2 separate regions of the Homo sapiens genome follow, and region 2 is linked to region 1. A link means that fine-mapping ties the variant in region 1 to the expression of a gene that starts in the linked region. Tissue or cell type: whole blood. Region 1 holds a variant in brackets; the other region holds the start of a gene. All regions are shown on one strand. Distances are between the middles of the regions. Region 1 overlaps LOC107986454 (a long non-coding RNA gene). Region 2 holds the start of PCDH1 (protocadherin 1).

Region 1 (8,322 bases):
AAATGTGTACGTGCAATAAAAGCTGATTGACATTTGCCTCAGAATGACACAGATTCCTAGAGTCACTGGCCCAAAGCAATTCTTCCGAGCTTTTGCACTTGCTGTGCCCTCTGCCTGGAATGCTCTGTTTCCAGATTTTTTCTGAGGCTGATTTGTTCTCATCATTTAGGTCTTGACCCAAACCACTCGTCCTAAAGGAGCTCCCTCTACATGCACTGTTGCTCTCTATCCCTTTATCTTGTTTTATTATTTTTACAGCACTTTCACGATCTAAAACTAAATTGTTAATTTCTTTGCTTTACTGTTACTCTTTCCACTCGCTAGAAAAAAAGCTCAGTATGGGCAGGAATTTTGCCTTAGCGACTACCACATTCTAGCGTCGGCATTGTGCTAGCCCACAGTAGGGCCTCAATAAATAATAAATGAACAAATGAATGAATTACTGAATACACACCAAGATAAAAGGGCCAGTATTTACCCACAAACATACACATATAAATGTATGGTTATTCATGGGCAAGTGCATGAGTACCCACGGTGACTCAGAGATTTCCCTCGCCCACAAGGACCACCTCTCAAGGGGCCTTTTAGGCAATCCAGAGCCTGTACAGTTCATTGCCCTAGTCTAGCTAATCAATATACACCTCCTCTGGCTGGATGAGGACCTGCACAAGCAGACCTGTCTCAGGTCAGCCATTGGTTAATCAAAGACGAGGGTGGAATTTAAAGTGCCCTATGGAGGGGCAGTGAAAACAGATTGATCCATGTGGCCTGGACACAGTAAAACCCCTTACAGGCTCCATTTATTTCCCACCTCTCATCTCCCCTCTCCTCCTGGGGCCCCAGCCCATCTTCCACTGCTCCCCATTTCCCACTCTACTGGAAGTGGCTGAACCAGGCATTGTGTGGGACTCAGGACAAATAGATTAGAATTTAGTGGGGTTTTACAGGGTTTGGGAATTTGACTAGGTGGGCAATATTTTAAACAAGCATTTATTGTCTTAGCAAGTACCTACTAAGTGCAAAGCTTGGCTAGGGACTGCCAGATTCATTACATAATAGCTGATTCAGGGCAGACTGTGAAAAATGATTTAGTCAGAAACCCTAAAGGTGGAATCCCTGTGTTCCCAAGGTACATGTCAGAGTGGGACACAGTTAATTCCCAGTTGGGGAGCTCTGGGATAGCTTACTAGAGTATCATTCTAAATAACTACCACTTTAATAGAGCACTTACTGTGTAAGCACATTTTACATGTGACCTTTCTGATTTAATCCTCACTCTTAAGCCTCTGGGTATGTGTGATTGCTATTATTATCCCATTTACAGATGGGGAGACTAAGGCTCAGGGAGGATTAAGCGAGTTGCCCAAATTTTCCACAGCTATTAAGCGGCAGAGTAGATTTTCAAGCTCAAGAGGAGACGCCAGAGTCCCTGCTCTGGGACCCCACCATGACAATGGCTATAGCTGTGCCTTGACGCAAAGGTAGGACTTACTTAGGTGGGAAGATAGGAGAAGTCCATTCTAGGAAGAGGACACAGTTTGAGAAAAAGCTGATAGGCAACGGTGCCAGAAGTTTTTCTGTGTGTGTATGGATTTTGTTTGTTTGTTTGTTTGAGACTGAGTTTCGCTCTGTGGCCCAGGCTAGAGTGCAGTGGTGCGATCTCAGCTCGCTGTAACCTCCGCCTCCCAGGTTAAAACGATTCTCCTGCCTCAGCCTCCTGCGTAGCTGGGATTACAGGCATGCGCCACCATGCCCGGCTAATTTTTTGTATGTTTAATAGAGTCAGGGTTTCACCATGTTGGCCAGACTGGTCTCCAACTCTTGACCTCAAGTGATCCGTCCGCCTCGGCCTCCCAACGTGCTGGGATTACAGGCATGAGCCACCGCGCCCAGCCTAGATGTTTTTTAAAACTTTCTGGTAGCTGGTCAGGTGTGGTGACTCACACCTGTAATCCCAGCACTTTGGCAGGCTGAGGCAGGCGAATCACCTGAGGTCGGGAGTTTGAGACCAGCCTGGCCAACATGGAGAAACCCCGTCTCTACTAAAAATACAAAATTAGCCAGGCGTGGTGGCGCATGCCTGTAATCCCAGCTACTCGTGAGGCTGAGGCAGGAGAATCGTTTGAACCCGGGAGGCGGAGGTTGCGGTGAGCAGAGATTGCGCCATTGAACTCCAGCCTGGGCAACAAGAGCGAAACTTCGTCAAAAAAAAAAAAAAAAGAAAAATCTCTGGTAGCCTGAGGTCCTAGGAGATTTAAAACAACAACAACAAAAATAACAAAAACAAACAAAAAACAACTATTGCTGACTTTTTTCTCTATCTGGTCTTTAGGATATTAGCCCCAGGATGGATTCTTGCCCTGGGTGTGTCTTTCTCTAGTTCCCAAACAGAATTTTATCCAAAGGTGGATGATAGGGGGTGAGGGTGCAGTATTTTTGGTGAATTGGTCTTCTCCCTACCCTGGCTGGGATGGGGGCCACTTGGGGACACTTTCCAGGCCCAGCTGGTCCTCTGCCCATCTGCATCCCTGCCTCCTGACTCATTTCATTCCAACCAATAGAGTCTTAGCATGCAAATTTAATGAATAGGCAAAGAAATGATTGGCTCATTTTCCCTGATGTAATAATGCCACTATTCAAGTAACTCCTATGAACCCTACCCCCACCCCAGTTCAGGGCATTTGATCATGTTCTGGCAAGAATCCCCAACTCCTGTTTTCCCTTTTTTTCCCCATTCTGAGTTAGCGAATCACTTCAAAATGCCCGACTCATCTCTCCAGGGGTGGGATGTCTGGAGGGCCAGGAAGCCACCCTTAGGCCTGAACCACTGCCATCTTTCTGGGAGGCCCCTTATGCCTCTGCGGACTGTGGGTAGCATCAAATCCAGGATAACAGAGCCCATTTACTAAGACGTTTTGCGAGAATCCATGTCCAAAGCCTTCCTGAAACCAAACCCCAGCATATCGGCTGTTCCTTTCAGCCCCTAATTTAGTAATTCTATTGAGAAAAAGAGATTGTGGGTTTTTTTATTTGGTGTGATTTATTCTTTATCATATAAATAATAATAATTTACACAAAGCTCATCCCCAAACAGAAGAGAATCTGTACATAAAAATAAACAAAAATTAAACTGAGCTGGGCCTGGTGCCCAGAAAACCAGCCAATTCCAAACACAACCAGGGGGAACAAATTCTCCAGGTCCTGGGAGCTCTGGGGCCTTGGCTGGAATTCTGGGTGGAGACTCTGGTCCGGGAAGCCATTGCCCTCTTTCCTGTACATCCTGTGCCGGATGATGGCACATCTGGCAGCCAACACTCATGGACAGCCAACCAGCAAGCTCACTGGGTTGGGAGGTGGGTGGGACTTGAGCTTAAGGGAAGAATCAGTTTTAAAACTCCTGGGCAGTGTTGCTTGCTTCTGGCTTCCCCAGGGGCTGTGAGAGATACTGTGGCTGGGGAGATGGGTGTTGGCCACCATCCAAAGGGGTGGAAGCTGCCTATGGCTCCATCTTTCTCCTGTAGCTCCTTAGAGGCATGAGTTGGACAGAGTACCCACTGGTCTTCTTTTCCCTTGGAGCTCTAGCTCCCTCTCTGGAGGCTCGTTATTTCTTATAGATATTGAAAGATGACAAGCAATCTTCTTGGCCATTGATTAATTTCCCTCAGCAGGCACTCTTTGGCTGTTCGAAACTTCTCCTTCACCACCTCCATCTTATTGCAGAAAAATCTCTTAAGAAGAAGACTGCCTTC[C/G]ACATTCTGGTTTCGTACCTTTACTTACAAAGGGAGGAGTATATGTGGCTTAAACTGCTGTTTGGTTTGACTGTAAGCCCCATCCTCCCATCCCAAGGCAGGGGTTAGATCTGCATTGGTCTATAGGTACACAGTCATTTGCAATTAGAGACTTTATAAATGGTGAAGTTGATCATGATAGTGAACGCGATAAGGCTAAGATGGTGATGGAGAAGATAAAAGGAAAAGGGATTTTGATAGCAGTGCTGAGCCTGCCCTTGTGTCTGGGGTGATTATCTGGCTTAGCCTGAAATGAGAAATTGTGAAGGTGGTGGTGAAAGCTAAGGACAGGAGAAGAGGAAAGTGAAGGTAAATGTGTCCAGGTACAGGTGAAGCTTCCAGAGAAGAGAGGTAGCACAGCCCAGTGGTTAGGAGTCTAGATTCTGGGGCAGGACATTCTGGTTTCAAATTCTAGCTCGACCACATACTAGCTTAGGGAAGTATTTAACCTCTCTGAGCCTCAGCCTCCCCAGCTGTAAAATGGGAATCATAACAGTACCTGCCTCAGAGGGTGGCTCATGGTAAGCGCTGTATGAGCATGTGCAACCTAAGGTATAGGTGGGATTACAGTTACAGCCAGAGGAAGGGCCACAAAGCACAGCAAGCAGCACTGGGAAGATTCAGGAGATCTCGATCAGGCCCCATCACAGTCCTGTGTGACTTTCCCCATCTGGGCCTCAGGTGCCTTGTCAAAGGAGAGTTGAAGTAAATAATATTCAGCCCTCAGAAAGTCCCCTTGGGCAGCAAAGCTCTGTATGCATGACTGGTAATTGTCCTGTGGGAACATCCAGCCCCAGAAAGGACTCTACAAGTCTTTAGGTCCAGGTGTAGATTCAGCAGGCATGCTTGTGTCAGGGGTCAAACCGAGGGAGTTGCTGAGCCCGTTGAAACAGCCTCCTTTTAGGGGTAATAGAAAGATGAGAGGTGAGTTCTTGCCTGGGAGAGGAGGCTCCAGCTGTCCCTCTCTCCAAGGAAGCGGCTGGGCTCCAAAGTACAGCCTGATGGGGCTGAGCCGCCGATCCTGGTTGTACTGTGACTGCAGCCATGTTGGCATCTGCTCCCAAGTTTGGGCACATGAGGGGTTTCACTACCAGAACCAGCCTTTTCCAGTTCTGCCCCTTGTTTGCATTCTTGAGTTTTTTCCTACCCCCTGGGGTTAAAGGACAGGAGGGATAGAAAGGGCACTCATGCCCTGTGCCAAATTAAATCTTTATAGACCCCCTTCTCTAGGCCTTGTCTAAGGATGTCAGAGCCCTCTAAAGTCCCCCAAGCCAACAGGAGGCTATCAGAGGCTGCAGGGCAGGAACTGGCCACAGGATGTTTTCCTTTTATTCTGCCCTAGAAGAAACCCGGCTTCAGGTTCATTGCTCCCTGAAAATCAGGGGTAAGGAATGGAGTTTGGCCTTCAGTACCCAGGGGGCTTCATCAGTCCCTCACCTCTTCTCCTGACAAGCCCTTCAGCCACTCTTCCACCTGAAGGAGGGAGAAGAGCCCTGCTGTGTCCTGAATTCCAATCCTGGGAACTGTCACTCACATGGTCTCTGGTCCCAGCCTGAATTTAATCCAAGAGCGGAGGCCTGCCTGGTCCCAATCAACCTAGGCACGGGGGATCATGGGCTATGTGTGTGCATTTGGTTGGTGCTTAGAAGATATAATACAAATATTAGCAATCCACTTGAACTCTTACTCTGTCAGGCTTTACGCTAGATGTTCCACATGCATCACTTTACTGAATCCTTATTTCAGAGTAAGAAACAGGCTCAGAGAAGTTAGGTCACTTATTCAAGGTCACACAGTTAGAAAGCTTCAGAGTCTAGATTTGTGGACCTCTCTGATTCCAAAGGCTGTGCTCTTATTCACTGAGCTTTGCAACATGTACCTGGATGAACATGAGGTCTCCCGCCTGACACTCAGTTTACTAACAATGTGTGCTGAGGACAGTGTAGTGGGCCAAGGGGGGCCACCCTCAGGCCTCAGATCCACCTTCCCACCCATGATCTCCTGTCTACCTAAGAGTGTCCAGGGATACTCCCAGAAAAGCTGGAACAGAGACCAGAGCCATGCCGATGCCTCAAGGAGGCAGCCAAGTCTTTGCTGAGTCTGCAAATCCTCATCTCTAGGCCCCCCATGAGCTCGTTTTGAGAACTCCCCCAATACCTCTCCCAGCCCCTGCTCCCTCCATCAAAGTGACCCTCCAACCCCTCTTTCTTTTCTCTCCTACCTCCAAAGTATTCCCTGCAGCACCCCCAGGTTCCCTTCTTCCTGAAGCCCAGACCTGTAGGGTTAGACTGGTCCAGGCTGCAAATCTCCCAGTTGAGCTTCTTTTTGGGGTCACAGCTTCAGAAGCATCTCTGCATCTTGCCTGTACTTTGATAAATCGTATGAAAACCTGAGTCTCTTCGCTTCTCCTCTGGAACCCCCTCCTCCCTGCAACTTCTCTCTGCTCAGCAGCTGCACAATGCAGTCAGAGGGAAGGGGGTGGACTGGCAGAAACCAGCTTGTTTCTGAGGCTGGAAAACAGAACTGTAGGAAATTAACAGGCTGAGAAATGTCTGCTCGGCTCCGCATTTGTTTTGCACCCTCAGTCTTTCTCTCTGCAGCTCTCTCCTCCTGCCCCTGCCCCTCTCCCACTCCCTGCCGCTCAGTGTGGGCACCTGGGGCTTGGCGGCTCTGTGTCTGGGCCTTGCAGGAAGGTGCATCTTCGTGTGTGTGTGGGAGTGTGTGCATGTGTGTGTGTGTTTCTCTGTGTGTGTTTAGGGATGGCAGACCTGCCCCTCCTTCAGAGGCAGCTTAGCCAGAAACGCCAGCGGCAGAGACAACTGTGCGGGTGGGGATGCTGAGCGCAGAGCCGGCAGAGCCCGCGGGCAGGCAGAGAAGCACCACACAAGAAATTGATTCCATTAAAAAGTAATCTTAAATTTAATAAAAGTTATGATTTGTTTATAGCCACAGAACCTACAGGCAAGAGGGAAGGGGGGTAGATTCTAGTGATGGATAAACAGAAAGAAAAAAAAAATAAGAGAGGGGGAGGGGAGGAGTGAGAGATGCTTAGGTTTGGATGGATGAGAGGATGGAAAGACCTGGGGGTGGGGAACGAGACCATTTTCTCTCCCTCAGATGGAAGAAAAAAGCCTGTGGCTGGATTCCAAAGAGGAAGCAAGAGTGAGGAGTGAGTGAGGAGATTCAAGGAGCTCTCGGGAGATGGAGCTGTTGGAGGGGGCTGGGGACATGCAGGCACGGCCTGGGAGAGGCAGATGTGCAGGAGGGACGGTCTGGAGCCCTGGGAGGGCAGGTAAGGAACGCAAAGCACCCATTCAGCAGTCAGACAGGCAGTCCTGGGTTTCCACTCCAAGTCAACCTCTTCCTAGCAGTGTAACTTGACTTCTCAGATCTTCATCCTTTTCATTGGCCAAATGGAGCCACAGAGATAGTGCCTACCTAACGAGGTGGTCGTGAGAATGAATGAAATTGTACAGGTGCATCTCCTGGGTGCCCAGTAAAGGACAGCTCCCTTCCTGACCCTCCCCGGATGGAGGTCATTACCCCAACACTGCCCCCTCCTGTTTATTTGCAAGCAATGGCCAATCCTACTCCTTTCTTTTATTCTTTTTGCAATGGAGGGGACTGAGTGGCCTTCATCTCCAATCTCAATCTGGAGGCTGGTTCTCCTGGGTAGTCGCATACTTTGTCCTTTGCCCACCTCTCTAGAGCATGAAGAGGGCATGGGCAAGGCGCTCTAGAGCCCACTTCCACTATGAGCTAAGGGACCATCTAGGGGACACATTCCCTCGCCTAATCTGCCACCCCCTACCCTGCTTTTTCTCTCTCCCTCAGCCTAGAATCATGTGTAAACACAGAGCTGAAATTCTCCTGACCCCTGAGAAGTGTCCCTTGGGTGAGACTGCCCAGGTACAGCCCCTTGGCCACCATAATCAGGTCCTGTTGGGTAGAACATTTGGCTTTCAGGCAAGTCTCCTGTTGTTCCTTCCAATGAGCCTGGGCCCTGTCTCTAGGCCGGCTGGGAGGGAGCTAGGACCTGCAGGGTCAGCACCAGAACTGGTGATTGGGGCCTAGGCAGGAAGCCAGGACATCACTGTGAGATGCTATGTGAGGCGAGAGCCAGAAGATCTCAGCTATCCCAGAGTCCAGGGACTGAGAACCAGGAAAAATCGTCACAGCAACAGGAGTCTCCTGGGGAAGCAAGAAATCATTCTGAGGATAACACGGCCAGTTCTACTCAGTCATCTCCTCCTACCTGGGCTGCTTTTAGCAAAGTACCTCCACCTGAGTTCACTCTTGCCTCGTGGCATGTTAAAGGCACCTGCTGGTTGGAGACATTGAGGAAGACAGGACAGGTGGTATTAGCATCTTCATTTTACTGATGAAGAAACCGAGGTCAGAAAGGGAAAGCTACTGTCCCCAGGCCACACAGCATGTAATATATGGAGGTGGAACTGAAAGCAAGCATTTAGACTCTGGATAAAGGCACCACAGCCTACCCTACTGAGTGTCACTCATCATGGCTACATGT
Region 2 (8,322 bases), 56 kb after region 1:
CCGTCAGGGGTGTAGGAGTAAGGGATAAGGAGGGGACGGAGTCCCAGAAAAGCTGAAGGAAATACTGTCTGTGTCAACATCTGGGAAGGGATGAGAACAGAGGTGAGAGTTCACCCGGAAACTTCACTTCCAGCCCACCCCGGGGACCAAGGTCCATTTTGCTGAGTGCTGTGGCCAGAGAAAAAACACACAGAGGCAGCCACCACTGTCCCAGTAGCCAGGTCAGCTCTGACTCCCCACCCTCACCCCAGCACTGTTACACAACGGTCACTGCCGCGGGCACAAAACACCAAGGGACAAACGGACTGTCGCGGGGAGAGGGGAAGAAAATGGGGTTGCGTGGGGTGGAGCTGAACAGAAGCCTCCCACAGAGAGCAAGTGTGCAGACCTCAGCTCCTCTCCCCTCTCTCCCACAACCCTCTATTAGCCTCTGCAGGGCTTCTGGGCACCTGCATGTCAGATCGTTGGGGTTAGAACCCTCGCTCCACCACTTCCTAGCTGTGTGACATTAACCAAGTGAATTTACTTTTCTGAACCTGTTTCCATACTGTGAAATGGAAATAATGAAACCTGCCTCTTGAAATTATTTGGGAGAATTAAATGAGATCTCATGCCTATAAGGTCTATTACATTAAGGTCTATTTACATTACATGTAAAGGACAAATCATTTTTTTTTCTAAGTCTTCTAATTGCTGAATAGACCATTTTATTTCCAGCATCGGGCACACAGTGGGTGCTCCTTGGTTCGATGAATAAACAAGCCAATCCCCTCGCTGGTTGGTAAGTCCTATGAAGGCAATGATGGTATGTCTCTTACTACTGCATCCTCACCACCCACCATGGACCCTGGCAGATAAAAGGTGCTCAATACATTGTTGAACAGAATCTCTGCACCAACTATCCTTGCTCACGGCAGGGGCAGCCCTCACCTTCTTCTTTCCCTACACCCCTCCCCGAACCCTGATTCCCACTTAGCTCCTCCCCCACCCTCGCGGCCCCCTCCTGGCCCTTCAACCCCCTTCTCAGCAATTAGCTTACTATCGCTTGCCCAGCTCCCCTGCAGAAGTAGCCACAGCAGCAGCCCCTCTGCTAAGAAGATGGCAGACCAGCAAGACACCCACTTCCAGCTGAAGTCCCTTTTGGAATTGGGAATTGGAGGTGGGTAGGAGAAGGGGTAAAAACTAAATGCGGCCAGAACTGAATCCAGACTTGCCTCCCTATCACACTGCCTCTGGCTACCTCTGGGGGCCAGTCTGCCTCTCCCCTCGATTCCACCCCATGCCCTAGTCTAGTTGTAATTACAGGTTCCAATTCCCCCAGACCTTAACGTCAATAAAGTAACACCCACCTACTCCCGCGCCCCCCACCCCCTACAAACACAGCTAGACCTCCGGCTTGTCATAAAAACTTTCTGGGCGGCCCCTTCCCTGGCAGCTCCCGAGGGTTGACCCAGAGCAGGTGCTAGAAGCCTCGCGGCGTCTTCCTGCACGAAGCGACCCAAGCAGCCCCAGTCCGCACCGCCTTGGTCAGCGGGCGCTCCCAGCACACACCCAGCGCGCGGAGCGACTCCTCCCAGAGGACGCCGAGTGTGTGTGTGTGTTGCGGAGATTAGGGGGTGGCGGGGGGGACGGCGGCAGTTTCTTGGGCTCTGGCGGCCCCACCCCCACCCCGGCAGCGCCCAGCCTCCAGGAACCCAAGGCAAGGCTAGGGCGCGGCGTGGTGAGAACGCGCTTCGGCTAGTGGGGGGAGCCCTTGCGCCCCCCGCACCCAGGCCACCGCGGGGAATCCCTCCTCCCCGGCATCTCCGGCCTCGGCCTAGGGTCCCCCGCAAGCCGGAGCCGGCGCGAGCGGCGCAGCGGGCGCCAGGAGGGGGCGGGGAGGGAGCCGGCGCCGGAATCACAAAGCCGCGAACCCGGCTAGGCGGGGACATTCTCATAAAACCGACCCTCTCGTGGCGAGCAGAGGGGGTTTTTTGCCCTACGCTCAATCCTCCAAGGCCTCAGTGCCGCCCCCAGTCTTTCCTGGCAGAAGAAATAGTAGCCGACCACTGTTGGGGAAACTGAGGCCAGAATTCTGACTTACAGAGGGTAGCTGGGGGGAAGGGGTGCGAGACCACCTCGCCTACAAATTCTGCTCCTATGCCTGCCGCGATCTCCGTTCTGGCTCCAGGGCCTGCCCGCGCACACACTGGCCTACAGCGGGGACCAGGCGGAGGGGGCGCTCAGGTGTGAGACGAACCCAGGTGTGCGGGACCCACCAAGGTGTGTGGGACCCAGGTGTGCTGGAGACCCAGGTGGCTCAGAAAACTCAGCTAAATGGCTGGAAGAGGGTCGCAATCACCGTCCCAGGCTAGCACCCTCTACAAAGGAACCTGGGGCCCCAGAGCTCCGGGGAGGCGGGATGGCTTGGCCAGCCAGGTCCAGCTTGTTCCCGGAACACCAGCCGGTTCGGCCCGGGAGTGGGGGTTGGGGAGGCGCCGACTGGGAAGCCGGCAGGCCGGCCCAGCCTTCCCGCTGTGCCGATATTTACAATAATAATGTCGCGATTAACGTGGCGGGGCGCTTGGGGCTCGCCGAACGACCCCGGCGGCTTCTCCTGCCTGAATCTGGACTCCGAGAGAGAGGAACGGAGTGTGTGTGTTTGTGTGTATGCGCTGCAGGGTGTAATGTAATGTGACACTGTTGGTTTAAGGTGTGTGTGACACCCAGTGTTAAGATGGGTGAAGCAGTGGATTCTGTGTTTGTGACCGTGAGGCGCTGCTGTAGGTGCCAATTCCTGTGTTAGAGTGTGTGCCATCAAGCGTGTGCTGAGATACTGGGTTGTGTGTTTGTGTGGGTGCAGTAGAGGGGTGCAAGGAGACCTGTGCTGTGTACCTATGTTCTGGCCAAGAAGTGGGTAAGATGATATATGCTAGGGTGTGTTCCTTAAAGGAATGTGGGGGGTGGCTAGGTTTTGAGGGTTCATCTAGTGAACTGTGGCTGTGACACTCGTACATGAGGGCACGAGATTGTGTTTGTGTGTCCACGTCGCGGGGTGTCACACCCGGTTGTGTTATTGCTCTGTAAAGCCACGGGTTGTGTGTCGGTGCTGCTGATCGTGCAGACACTGAAGCGGATTCTGAGCTGGCGACGGTGCCCCAGTGGGCGCTGGTGTGCGGGAGGTATGTCTGTGTGCACATATGCAGGGATGTATGTATGTGTGTATATATGTCCACGGTCTGGCCCTCTGGGTGCCCGCGAGAAGCTGGAAGCGGCTGAGTGAGCCGAGGTAGTTGCCCAACAAGTGTGTATGTATGTGTTGTGGACAACGGTCCTTGCTTGCTCCGTCCTCCGGGAGACCCCCACCAAACTGGGGGCCGCGCGCTTCCCCAAACCCATCCTCCACGCCGCGCGCTCCTGGAGTCTCCTTATCCCCGTCTCTCCGAGCGCGCCCAGGTTTGGGACGCGGGGACTAGGGTTCTGCTCAGCACCCCCTCCCCTCCCTCGGCTTCTCGCCGCGGACCTGGGAGGACGGAATCCCTCAGCCGCATCCCCTGCTATGGGCTCCCAGCAGCCCCCACCTCAGCCCCCTCGCGCCGAGCTCGTGTTGGGCCCCCGCGGCCTCGCTCCGCCGAGCGCCCCTCCCTCAGCTCCCGCCGGCCATGACCGCTTCGGGCCCCAAGCCGCTGCTGCCTCCACCGCCGCCGGATCCTTACCCGCCTCCGGGCAGCGCCGGCCGCCCGCCCCGCTGTCCATGAGCCGCCGCCGGCCCCGGCCTGGGCTGCGGCTCCGCACGGCTGGGGCTGGAGCTGCAGTTCGGGCTCCGGCTCCGGCTCCGGCTGGCTCTGGGCGCAGCAGCCCGGCGGCTTTGCGTCCGCGCCGCGCTCCCGCTCCCCGAGTGTGTGAGGCGGCGGCGGCGGCGGCGGCGGCGGCGGCGGCGGCGGCGGAGCCAGCAGAGAGCGGAGCGCACAGCCCGGCCCGCCCCCTCCCTCCCCCCTCCCTCCCGGCCCGCCCGCCTCCCCGCCCCCCCTCCGGCCGGGAGGTGGAGCTCGGGACCGCTCCGGTCCGGCTGGGAGGGGACCCCGAGCACCGCTCCCCAAAGCCTGGACCCCTCCCTCTGCCATCTCTTCACTGCCCGAGGCCCAGTACACAGGCCGTGCCCTCCTCTGAGCTTCACCTTACACTTATCCCACCCAAGCCTCCATCTAGGACCGCTCCTGGATTCCCCTCCTTACCCTACTCAAACACCTGTCCCCAGCTCTGTCTGCCCCCTGGGAAGTCGAGGCAAGGGAAGTGTCTCCCACAGCGCCTTCTTCCCTGGGCACCTGCTCCTCCATATCCACCCTCTTCCCGCCCAGATCCCCGATCGCCCTGTGTGGCCCTCCCTTCCCGCTGCGCTCGGGGAAAGTCCACCCCTCCCCCTCCGGCCGAAGCCGCAGAGCGGTCAGCCTCGGTGGCCGCAGCAAGCCGTGGGGGTGGGGCTATGGAGGGGACCGTGGGAGGAGGAGGCTAATGGGACCCGGGGGCTCTAGAGTGAGGATGGGGAAGATACACAAGCGTGAAGACGAAGTGCTGCTCCTGAGCTTAGGCTATTCGAGGGTCCCCTGATCACCTGCCCTCTGCACGGCGTAGTGCTGCGGCCACACGTATTTGCCAGTGACTTACATTATACAGTCACCGGGTCCCTGCCCCGCGAGGCCGCGCAGTGTCACGGCCTGTGTCACACGCCCTCGCAGTGCCACACGCTCCCTATCACACTCACACCAAATCACACACGGTGTCACACGCAGTGTCTCACACACTCCAATACTCGGTTTCTCCCATTCAGCTCTGGCTCTCTGGCGCCATCTAGAGGTCTCTGAGTAGCTTGGGAACTCCCTCTCCTGCGCTTGCGGTTTGGTAACCCAGGCTACCAAGTGTCCCAGTTCAACAGGACCTCCTGCCTTCTTCGCCTGCAGGCCCAGGCAGAGTGTTCTAGGTCAAAAGAATGAGGAAGGTTATCCCTAGCCAGGCCTAGTGCTGGGTGAGGAAAGGCTCTTGTTATGGGATGACCAGTTGTTGGGCCTCTTTTTGCCATAGCCTCTGACTCCCCATCTCTGTCCTTCCCCATTTTCCTGTTCCTACCACTCTTCTGTGCCTTTCCTCTTTCTTCTACTTCCTTCTCTTCTCAGCTCTGGCCTCTCTCGGTGGGATGCTCTTCAGGGTAAAAGTGGAATCTCTGGTTAGCTAAGAGGGCAAGCAAAGTCTGTCCAAGATCTCTCCCAGAGCAGCCCTGCTTAACTGGACTCCTTTTCTGACCTGGGCTCTGCTCTATCCCTCAGCCCCAGGAGCCCAGGGGCAGGGCTCTAGATGGGAGATGGGGTAATCTGGTGAAAGAGGGGGGTGGGTCTGTTCTGTAAGTAGCTTCTTTCTGTCTCTAGAAAGCTCATACTCTCCACATCATTGAGCACAGCTCCGAGGAGGGAATCAGTGGCCCAGAGAGAAGAAATCTTCCACAGAAGAGCTGCCCCGGTCTCCCTGCCCCCAGCGTGTGCCCGCTGCCCAATGCAGCAAACCCTCCCCAGTCTGCTTGCTGGGAGCCATTCAAAGGCTCCTCTGTTCTCCTCCCTTGCTCAGGGCTGAGCAGGATCAGCAGCCGCAGAGCTGGGCAGGAAATGCTAATCTCCCAGATGTTCGCCTCCATCCTCCCTGCTCCACCACCATCAAACTCAAATTCTGCACCAAGTGGTAGGAGCAGAACTGGGCCACAGCAGCAGCACCAGGGTGTGCCTACTCTTCTCCCTGCTCCCCAGCCCCTCCTACCCCAGCTGCCAGGCTGGGCTCTGTGCCCCTGAGTCAGGGACAATGTAGATATGAGAATTGGGGCCTTTTTTCCCCAGGAAAGAGGGCAGGTGAGCAAGCAGGGACTGGGAGGATGGTTGGGGAGCAAGGGAGGTGGCATTTGAAGAGGAGAGAAGTCAGACTTCTGGCCCTGTACCAAAGTGGGAGGAGGACCTGCTTGGCAAGTGAAGCACTGGGGGAGGCTCCTGAAACTGATGGTGCCTGAGTTCCAGCTGAGACTGTGGCCAGGGATTGGAACCAGGGTGATGCTGGGTATGGGAATGGTTGGGGTGCTTGCTGTGATATCCGTGTACCTGGGATGGGCTGTGGCTAAGTGAACTAGGATGCTGTAGGGCCTGGAACTGTAACACCAAGGCTGCTGCCTCTGATTGTACTTAGGACACTGTTGCAGTGCTCTGATGCTGGTGTGCCTAGGCTATAGCCAATAAGATTACCTGAGAAACTATCGCCAAGCTGTGTGTATATGGGTGTGTGTGTGCATGTTGAGGGAGAACTGTAACTGATAAGCTGTTGGGCCTGAAGCTATAGATATGAGGCTGGCACACCTGAGACTGGCTGTAGCTGAGAAGCTGTTCCCTGTTAATATGATGTAGATGGGACTGTAACTGGATCCATTGCCTAGGTCCTAGGAGATGAGAGGCTGTTGCGAGGAGCCTGTACCTGGGAGACAGGCTGTTACCTGGGATAGGAGCAGAGCTACTGTTGTGTATAGGACTGTAGCTGAGCTGCTATTGGTCCTGGAGCTGTAGCTGTGATGACAGCATACTGGGGATTGGCTATAGCTAAGATGCTGTTGCTCAGAATTGTGGTTGGGCTGTTACTGTGTGCTGGACTCTAGCTGGGATGCCTGCAGCTATAACTTTAAAGCTTGGGTGTAGCTAGGAGGCCATTTCCTGGTAATTTTGCTGGACCATTGTTGTGTGGGGGCTGTGGCTGAGACTCTATTGTTTAGGAGATGACAAGCTGTTCTGGGAGGCAGGATACTACCTGAGATGGAAGCTGATGTACTGTTGGAGCTGATCTACTGTTGTGCATAGGGTGGTCCCCAAGTGGCTGTTGCTGGGTCAGTGACGAGCTGGGTGGGGGAAGCCAAGTGAGTCCTGCCTTGAGGTCTGGGAGATGCCAGGAGCTCTAGGCTGGGTGGGGGCTGCTGCTCTGGGGAGGCCTCAGCAGCTGCTCTGCTGTGGAGCTGGAAAGCCTGTTTTCATTACTGTTTTAACTCTTTTTTTAACCTTGTTTTTCTCTCGGCTGCACTTTCGCTCACTCATTAATTTTGGTATTTTTCTCACGGTGCCTCAGCCCCTGTCACGGCTGCCATGGCAACAGGAGGCAGTGTGCTCAGTGCCAAAATATCTGATCAAAAAATAACCAAAATAAGCAAACACCAAGACGACTGTTCTGGGGACTATGGTCAGGGAGAGCCGATGGCTCAGATCCAGGAAACCCTAGGCTCCAGGGTACCTGTTTCACTACCCCTCTCCCCCAGGGAAGCTTTGCTGAACGTTCTGATAACCTAGAAGGCCCCTTTCCAAGGAATCCCCCACAGCACAATCTCCCAGGACTCTGAGATTTCCAATAGTTCCTGTCCAAGGGGCAGCTTTGCCTGAGGTGGGAGCATCGGGAGAGGGTGAGGGCTGGGGATCACTTCCCAGGAGCTGGCAGATGAAGCTTCTAAGAAGCTCCCTCCCTGCCCTAGCCACAAGCATCCGCACTCACTCATTCACCCACCCCTCTTCTGGCCCTTCTTGCCTTAGGCTTATCTCCCTTTCTGTGCACCCAACCCCCACTAGGCCACTTTTGTTTTCTCATAGCCCAACGTTCTGATGGGATGAACAGAGGGGAGGAAGCTGACAGTCTCCAGCCCCCTACCAACTCCTCAGTGGAGGTGCCAGAGAGGGGTACCATAAAAGTAGCTGACATTCCGAGGCCTCTGCCCACCTCTAGCTCACCTTCCTAGGGGAGATTCCTGAACATCCCTGACCACTCACACCGCACTCCAATTTTCCCTCCCACTTCTTGGGAGCCTTCTAGTTCCCTGGAGACCTCCTCTCAAGTGGGCATGTCCCCAGGAGGGGTAAAAGGATAGAGCCTCACATAAGTTAGAAATGGGCAGAGCTCTTGGTACTACCTGTCTCTTTTCCTTCTTCATCCACCACTTTCCCCTCTGAGGAGGCTTGTCTAGATGTCTGGAGCACTGGGAATTGGGGGAATGAGGAGGAGCCCCTCAACTCTGTCTCAGTCACATCACTTAATCACACCTCTCCTTCTGCCCCACCCCTCTGGCAGTGAAGGCTCACTCCCAACAGATCTCCACCCGCTTCCGGGAATGGCCAGAACTCGCCTCCTGCGTCTCTCTTTCCATTTCTATCTTCCCCTCCCCCCAAGAGCTGTAGTGGCCTTGGCCTCCTGGCAGTGCCTTCCCAGCCTGTTTCCATAGAAACTGGGTAGGCTGTGCAGTGCAAGAATCGGAGGGGAGACAGGAGCAGGAAGGAGGGACCAAGC

Evidence for each region.
Region 2: it holds the start of PCDH1, and the variant in region 1 is fine-mapped to the expression of PCDH1 in whole blood (INTERVAL, PIP above 0.99).

What each region holds. Positions count from the first base shown.
Region 1 is chr5:141,819,026-141,827,347 of GRCh38, forward strand. It overlaps LOC107986454 (a long non-coding RNA gene), which reads right to left. Exons shown (of 3, transcript XR_001742906.2): 1 at 2,464-8,322. Among named protein-coding and RNA genes, the nearest start is that of PCDH1, 55 kb to the right of the region's middle. RefSeq lists enhancers at 4,014-4,514, 6,318-7,006. The variant C/G (reference allele first, on the strand shown) is at 3,753.
Region 2 is chr5:141,874,528-141,882,849 of GRCh38, forward strand. It overlaps PCDH1 (protocadherin 1), which reads right to left and starts at 3,883. Exons shown (of 5, transcript NM_032420.5): 1 at 3,696-3,883. The coding sequence starts at 3,735. RefSeq lists enhancers at 2,181-2,865, 3,132-3,881, 7,911-8,322.